Regions from separate parts of the Homo sapiens genome. Here region 1 is linked to region 2. Evidence: fine-mapped expression QTL. A gene starts in region 2. The other region holds a variant in brackets. All regions are shown on one strand. Distances are from middle to middle. Region 1 overlaps PHKA2 (phosphorylase kinase regulatory subunit alpha 2). Region 2 holds the start of PHKA2-AS1 (PHKA2 antisense RNA 1).

Evidence for each region. PIP is the estimated chance that this variant, and not a neighbour inherited with it, causes the effect.
Region 1: its variant is the best candidate, but not a certain one, in a credible set for the expression of PHKA2-AS1 in blood mononuclear cells (TOPMed, PIP 0.53).

What each region holds. Positions count from the first base shown.
Region 1 is chrX:18,916,590-18,920,589 of GRCh38, reverse strand. PHKA2 (phosphorylase kinase regulatory subunit alpha 2) reads left to right here. Exons shown (of 33, transcript NM_000292.3): 18 at 389-558; 19 at 1,736-1,909. Among named protein-coding and RNA genes, the nearest start is that of PHKA2-AS1, 28 kb to the right of the region's middle. The variant A/G (reference allele first, on the strand shown) is at 2,359.
Region 2 is chrX:18,887,758-18,892,276 of GRCh38, reverse strand. PHKA2-AS1 (PHKA2 antisense RNA 1) reads right to left here and starts at 1,981. Exons shown (of 3, transcript NR_029379.1): 1 at 1,649-1,981.

The DNA of each region.
Region 1 (4,000 bases), 29 kb before region 2:
AGAGAATCACTGCTTCTGGGCCAGTCGTTTTGGGGGAAAAAACAAAACAAAAACATGGGTTGGTTCTGTTTAAAAGTAGTTTGCGCAATATATTTTGTCAAACTGTTGGTTGGTTCAGTAAAATAGAGTCGTATTTGTGTTGGGTTGGGAGTAAGAAGTCAGTGTGATTCATTTGGCTTTTAATATGCTGTGCGCGTTCACTTCATACTTGCTATTGAATTTTTGTTTGAATGTCTTGGCTGACCGCTTATATGGGGCAATCTGCAGAGTGATATATGTATTGATTCTGGCAGAAGCACCACATGGTTGTGCAAAAGTCTCTCAGTGATTCATAGTGGAAGGTTATCCACACACTACCTGTGTCCCTAACACGGTGTCTTCTTGGCAGAGTAAAATTAGGGAACCTTTCGGAATTTCTCACCACATCGTTCTACACATATCTGACTTTTCTGGATCCAGACTGTGATGAGAAGTTGTTTGACAATGCCAGCGAAGGGACTTTCAGTCCTGATAGTGATTCAGATTTGGTAGGATATCTGGAAGACACCTGTAATCAAGGTACAGCTTGGAATGCTTTTGTGGGTAGTTCGCTGAATTTATTTAAACTTTAGCATTGTGATAAAATTGCCCTAAGACTCAAATATAGACAATGATTGATAATTAAAAACAAGGAAAAACAAAAAAGAGGCTTCTGAAACTTGCATATATTAAAATGAATAAAATGCCCGTTTAAAAACCGAAACTGCAAATGATGTCCTTGAAAGTGGGGCATTTTTAAACCTAGAAGGACAAAGAGTTTCAGGAATGGGGACTTTTTTTCTTTTTTTTCTTCTCTCTCTCTCTTTTTTTTTTTTTTTTTTTGTTGTTGTTTGTTTTTGAGACAGGGTCTTGCTCTGTTGCCCAGGCTGGAGTGCAGTGGCATGATCATGGCTCACTGCAGCCTCGACCTCCTGGGCTCAAGCAATCCTCCCACCTCAGCCTCCCAAGTGGCTAAGACTATAGGCCTACAGGGAAGCACCACCATACCCAGCTAATTCTTTTATATTTTATAGAGATGGGGTCTCCTTATGTTGCCCTGGCTGGTCTTAAACTCCTGGGCTCAACTGATCAGCCTGCCTCGTCCTCCCAAAGTGCTGGGATTACAGGCATGAGCCACCGTGGCTGGCCAGGAATGGGGACTTTGCACAGAATACATACATTCTGAAGACAGAAACATACTGCTTGAATTTTCAAAGGAGTGGTAGAATGATCTAGGTTTGGTTGGATATGAGTGATGAAACCCTACGTATATAACATTTGTCAGTCTGAATAAGGTTTTGAGGTGATCTGTTTTTCACTTTTAGATAGTAGTTGGAATTAGGGCTGGGAGTTCCATAAGGCTTAGCTCACTCATGACAAATTAAAACAAAAAGCCCAGACTTCGGCTGCTATCCTTCAGGCTGTCTTACATATTATTCAGTTCATCTTGGGAGGACGAGATGTAAACACTATCTTGACTGGTAGTTTTTTTTTCCTGGGATAAAGTTTTTCCAAACAGCAAATTTCTACACACATACATTATCTCTGTAAATCTCTTCTTACTCTTCAGGGGTGAGTGGGAGTGCAAATATCGATATCTCAGTGTTGTCATCTGCTAAGCCTACTCAGTGCTGCTTGCTACCCATGGTCACTATTGTGTAGTCATATTTCTACAGCTTGGTTTCATTGGCTCTTTTTCTTGCTTGTCCAATTACAGAAAGCCAAGACGAACTTGACCATTATATCAACCACCTTCTGCAAAGCACATCGTTGAGGTCCTATCTGCCTCCTCTTTGTAAGAACACAGAAGACCGCCATGTCTTCAGTGCTATCCACTCCACGCGGGACATACTTTCTGTGATGGCAAAAGCAAAGGGTTTGGAAGTTCCATGTATGTTATTAACTCTTTTCTGCCTGTTAAAATACCTTCTTTTATCAAAGTAATGCAGGGACATAATTTAAAAGCCAAAGAATCCTAGAAGACAACAAAATGCCCCCCACGTGCTTCTACTTAGAGGTAACCACTTTCAACTCTTTTAGCTCTTTCTTCTGGTATGTACATATCTCCATATTTCTCAAATAATGTGTACATACTGCTGTCTTCACATGCATTGACTTGATTCGGTACTTGTTGACTTTCGATTAAGTGGGTAAGGATCTGGCTGTCTTAAATCACCACTCCTCTGCTTCACTCCCCCTAACCCACCAAGGGGTTAAAGTTTAGTTAAATCAGTATTCACTCTTTATATCATTGTATGTACACAAATATTTCCAACTGAGCATTATAGTATACTCTGTTTATATTCCCATTTTTACTCTGTTTTTTCGAAAGGTAAAGTT[A/G]CCCTGGCTTTTCATTTGCTTTGCTTTCTTTCTACATCTTCCAGTGGCCTCGCAATACAAATTTCCACAAGCTCAGTCGTATCGGTGAATCTCTCAATTCCACTGCCTTTCTTAGAGTCCACGAGTCTCCTTCTATCTGTGCTGACTGCGCTCTAGGCCTGTTGCATATGTGTCATCCTGGGAGTTTCCCTGGCTTGTCTCCTTAGTTGGATTCCGTGGTTCCTGAATCTGCTGTGTTCCCCTTTCTCAATGTATTCTTCTGTTTTGGTGGAGCACATTCTAGAATAGTTTCAGTAGGTTTCAAAAAAAAAAAAGTGAAGTGGAAGAGGGCATGGTGGTGACAGCTCTCGACTTACTTGTTTTTGAACTGCACTGCCCTCTGCCCCCTTCTGGCTTGGTTGCCCTCAGTGTCTGAGGTGCTTTTTACCCTGGGATCTTCCCCGGAGGCTTCCTTGACTTGTCTCCTGGGATGGCTCTCCTGTGTTCTGTATCCCAACTCTTCTTTCTTGGTTCACTCTTATTTTAATAGAGGACATGCAGTAGTTTCCTGAGAAACAGCGCACGGTGGGTAAAATTGTTGAAACCTTGCCATTTTAAAAATGTCTACAAATGTTCCAGACCCATTTGAGAGTTTGGCTGGGTATAGAATTCTAGATTAAAAATACATTTTTTTGGCTGGGCGTGGTGGCTCATACCTGTAATCCCAGCACTTTTGGAAGCTGAGGCAGGCGGATCACTTGAGGCCAGGACTTTGAGACTAGCCTGGCCAACATGGTGAAACGCTGTCTGTACTAAAAATACAGAAATGAGCCAGGTTTGGTGGCCTGCACCTGTAATCCCAGCTACTCAGGAGGCTGAGGCAGAAGAAGCACTTGAACCCGGGAAGCAGAGGTTGCAGTGAGCTGAGATCGTGCCACTACACTCCAGCCTGGGTGACAGAGCAAGACCCTGTCTCAAAAAAAAAAAAAAAAGACATTTTTTTGCAGATTTTTGAAAGTATGACTTATTGTCTTCTTGCTATCAGTGTGTTGGTGTTGCTGTTGAGAAATCTAAACCTGGGCAGGCACAGTGGCTCATGCCTATAATCTGAGCAATCTGGGAAACTGAGGCAGGAAGATCGCTTGAGTCCAGGAATTTGAGACCAGCCTGGGCAAGATAGTGAGGCCCTGTCTCTACAAAAAATAGAAAAAATAGCCAGGCATGGTGGCACATGCCTGTAGTCCCAGCTACTTGGGAGTCTGAGGCAGGAGGATCACTTGAGCTCAGGGAGGTTGAGGTTGCAGTGAGCTGTGATCACACCACTGCACTCCAGCCTGAGTAACAGAACGAGAACCTGTCTCAAAAAAAAAAAAAAATGTATTAGCCCATTCTTGCATTGCCATAAAGAAATACCTGAGACTGGGTAATTTATAAAGAAAAGAGGTCTAATTGGCTCAGGGTTCTGCCGGCTGTACAGGAAGCATGATGCTGGCATCTACTTGGCTTCTAGGGAGGCCTCAGGAAGCTTCCAGTCATGACGGAAGACAAAAGGGGAGCAGACACTTCACATGGCGACAGTAGGAACAAGAGAGAGTGGTCACACACTTTTGAACAACCAGATCTCATATCCCTTGTGAACTCAGAGTGAGAGCTCACTTATCAC
Region 2 (4,519 bases):
TCTGTCTGGTTGAGAGCAATGGGCTAGATTATGGTGGACTCTGCCTCTGCCTCTGAAACAGAGATGAGGCTATGGGATCATTTCCTCGGACATCTGTATGGAGATGCAGAGATCAACGTGCCCTAGCTGCTTCGAGTGGGCATCGTGATGCCCAGTGCCCCTCAGAGCCAAGATGCAGTACTGATGGTTATTCCTGAAGCGGAGGAGAGGCAGGTGGCCTCAGGTGCCTGACAGCTTCCTGGCAGAGTCCTCTTTGGGCTGAGTCAAACCCTTTGCAGTCTAGAAGGGTTTGGTGTGCAGGCTCTGCCCACATGGGACTTCCATGCCGTTTCCATTTCTTCCAAACCATAATGCTCTCCCTTGCAGAGGTGCAGAGTAGTTAGGTAAAGGAAAATCCCCCGGAGTCTCTCCATATCTGCTACAGTGGGCTTACGCGTTTCTTGCATTTTGGGGGCAGATCCCAGAGACAAGGAGGGCGGCACATGAGCAGACATGGCACCAGGCCCCTGCCCCCTTGGGTCACCCTGTTCCCTCCCCATCCCACAACAGCCGCTGACCAGAGCAGCTCTTCCCTCACAAGCCAGTTTGCTCCCTTTGCCCCTGAGGCTCCACGGGCTGCAGCTTCCCAGGTCTGGGGGGTCGCATTTTCATAGCCTTTGCATGTGTGTGTGTCTTTAAGACATGCCCGACAGAAACAAGAGTCTTGGAGATGACACGTAATTCACCTGCCCCGTGGATCATTTCAAACAGATAACGTGGGAAAGGTATAAGAAGGTATAAGTCATGAAAGTTGTTCTTGGAAAAAGCTCAGGAAGAGTTAGAGCCCTCCAGAATGAGCCAGGTGCTAATTTAGAACAGTCACCTGCCTGCCAATGATGATGACGTGCTCAGCCACCAAGCTGCGGGCCGGGAGAGGAGCCGTAATAAGCGATTCCACCAAGCCTTCCAGCCACTCCTTTGAAACCTCTTTAAAATGAAATCCTGAAATAGGACCGCATTTCCACAGGCATCAAGCTGTCAGCTTCAAAGGAGAACAGGCTTCTGAGGCCTGGCCCCTTCAGCGCGCAGCTGAGGCCCCCCTCCCCGAGGAGAGGAGCAGATGTTTGAGGGCAGAGGGCCTGTCCTGACAGCACCTGCGTGGAGGTGGCAGGAGGGGATTGTTTCTAGGCCAGGCGAGAGGAGCCTGGCAGCCCCTGGAGCCTCGAGCCGGGGGTGGCGGGGGCAGGAACTTCTACCTCCCTGCTCAGAGCCAAGAAGTCAATTTGAACCTTTGCTGGGGCTCGGTATTAACACGTTCTGCCTTGGAGGGCAAGCCGGTGGGGCCAGGAATAAGCATTCCTTTTAACAACTTCAGTTGAAAAGCAGCCACCGCCCCACCCGCTGCTGTCCCTGGCTCTCATCAGGTGAATTCAGCATTCCTGCCACCCTGCCAGTGCCTCTGTGATCCTGGGCATGAGTTGACCACTATGTACCTCAGTTTACCCATCCACAAAAAATGCAAAAGGCCAGGACTAAGCATGGGGGCGTGACGTGAACTCCCGCTCCTCCTCTGGTCAAGGGCTTCATGCTTAGAGGAAACCAGATAAGCCCTATTGCAACCCCACCTGGAGTGGAGTGGGGGAGGATGAGGAGGAGGGGGAGACCCTACCTTCCACAGGCCCAGGGACTCGAGGGGTGGGGCTCCATTAGGAGATCAGTCGGGGCATGGTGAAGGGGAGGAGAGGTTGTCAAGGCTCAGCTGCCTGGACAGAGAGGATGGAAATACTCCCTGTGTGAAAAAAGAAAAGGAAAAGACCCCAGATCAGGAGGCAGGAAATGCAGTTTGGCAGAGTTGGTTGATGCCACTTACTTCTGGACAAGAAGACTGGAGGCTTGGCCACCCTTGATGGAAATTGCAGCAGAACCATCTCTCTATTCTGTTGATTCCCGCACCAGGCTGGCAAATAGCTTTTGTCTTTTCTGCTTCCTTGTTGCAAAAGGGTACAAAAGCCTCCCACCCACCCCACCCCCAATCGCCCTTTGTGCCATTATCTTTCAAGGTGACTTAGCTTTTGAAGTCCCTGCCATCTGCTCTGCAGGCCTGTACTTTGCAGGATGTGAGAGCACCGCGTTCCCAGAATGCCTTCTGTTCTACCCGACGTGGCTACTGATAGCTCTGCCTGTGAGGGGAAAAGAAAGCTGCGCTGTGGCCCCCTTAAAGCCCAGTCCCTGCTGTCTCCCTCAAAAAGCCACTTAGGAAAGCCACGGCCTTGAGGTACCAAGAGAGTTCTTTGAGAAATGAGAGTGGAAACTGTGAGAGAGGCTGCTCTGCAGTCGAGTGCTGGGCACGTCTGACGATGCCTGGGAGAGGAAAAAATTCCATCAAAAAACTACCATGGTTTTCTTTAGAGGAACATATGTGCACTTTTGGCAAAACATGCCTTCTCAGGAGAGCTGGAATAGTTGGAACCAATGAACTCTGAAGTCATGTGATTCGTCCCTCTGTCTTCGTGCAGTCCTTAAACTATTCTGAAAAATGCATGAATCCAACACGAATCCTAGCATTTCTGCCATGCCCACTGAGGGCCAGGCAGGCATACAGCCTGGTTGGGGGGTGGGAGGGTGAAAAGTATCTCTTTTTGTGCTTGAAGGCCCCTGAGGAAGCCCCTAGGCTCCCGTGGTGAGTGTTCCCTGCGCTGGCCTAGCAGGGTGTTGGTGTCTTGAGCCCGAATCCTGTGCAGCATTGGCCCAACCCTTGCAGGTGGCCGCCACCCCTTTCCCCTGCAGCTGGCATAGCCAAGGTGCCAGGCTCTGCAAAGGGTAAGCTGCATCTGAATTGGGCACGAGGGGATGGTTGTGCCTTCCACATCTCCTTTTGTGAAAGATCTTCCCAGATGCAAACCCAGGATGGACTTGCCAAAGAGAAATCCCAGTAACTGGCTCTAATCTCTGTGCCACCAGCTGCCATTGTCTCGAAGTTCATTTGCAAACAACAGAAACCAACTGTGGCTGGGTTAAGTGGGAAGTTTATTAAACAATATTGGATAGGTCACATGGTCACCAGGCTAAGCGGCTCCCTAGCCAGGACCAAGATCCCATGTCATTCTCCAGTACTCCCAGGTTCATACCCCAGGACTTACACCACAGACACCCCCAATGCTGGGCACTGTCACTGGGACCACTGCCTCTGCTCTTTTGGAAACTAAATGTAGAGGCTTCTACTTGTCACCAAAAGGGATTTTAAACAGCCACTAGCTGCCACTTCAAGGTCTCAGGCAAGCATACTGCCTCGGCTGAGGGAGAGGTTAGAAAAAACAGCATCCAGCCAGGCGTAGTGGCTTGTGCCTGTAATCCTGGCGCTTTGGGAGGCCTAGGCAGGAGGTCTCGAGCCCAGGAGCTAGAGACCAGCCTAGGCAACAATGTGAAACCCTCCCTACAAAAAATAAAATCAGCAAGGCACAGTGGTATACACCTGTTTTCCCAGCTACTCAAGAGGCTGAGGTGGGAGGATCACTTAAGCCTGGGAAGTCAAGGCTGCAGTGAACCGTGATTGCACCACTGCACTCCAGCCTGGGTGACAGAACAAGACCCTGTCTCAAAGAAAAGAAAAAAGCCGCATCTTGAGAATTCTGCCTTCCAAAGTGGAGGTCCCCACTTCATAACATGGGGATCCCCTGAACACAGGAAGGAGGTTCAAATGCCAAACATCTGAAACTCAGTGTCCGCTCCAGCTGGAATGCTTGCTTTTCTTTCCTCTGCCCATAAAAGAAGGACCTGTGCCCTCGCCAGGGTCTGCCCTGGAGAGCTGACGCAAGAGGCACATTTGCCCCTGAGGAAGGCTGTGTGTCAGGAGTGAAGAGGGGCGTGCAGGCAACCCCTCCTCACCCCAGGTGCATGGAAGCCATCCTGGTACCCACCTCTGGGATGGAGGTAGGACAATTAATTACATGTTCTGTCTTTGGGTAGAAATGCTACTGAGCCATAGGGGCTGGATCACCACTGCTGCCCAGTATGGCCCACCAGACCACCTTCCACCATCCTGCAAAGCCCTGCAGAATTGCCAGTGCGCCCTGCAGTTTTTGTGACCACCAGCCCAGTCCCATTCGATTTTCATAGCCCTTGAGTGACAGCCCATCTGGGACAAGACTCAAATGATTGTCACATCTTTTCTTCTAACTCTTTAGCCAGCTGGGGGATTTAAAAATAATGAATTGGAACCGTTCGTGGTATAAGCCTCTCTCTTGACAGTGTGAATAATTTCCTCCAGCTGTCACCAGGGATCGTTTGAGTTCCTGTAAGTACTGGAGTCTCTCCTGGGCTCAAGAGAGGCACAGCCATCTAGGCCAGGCGGCCCTCTCTGCCTCTCCCCAACCTCCCCTCCTTCTGGAAGTGCAGGCAACAGCTCCCTGCTCCCCTTTCCCTCATTAGCCACAAGAGATCTGGAGCGAAAGTGGCCCAGCAGGCTGGGAGAAGGTTTTGAGAGGGCATTGCACCCACCGCGGCTGACGCAGCTCTTCACGCCAGAAGATGAAGCAGCCGT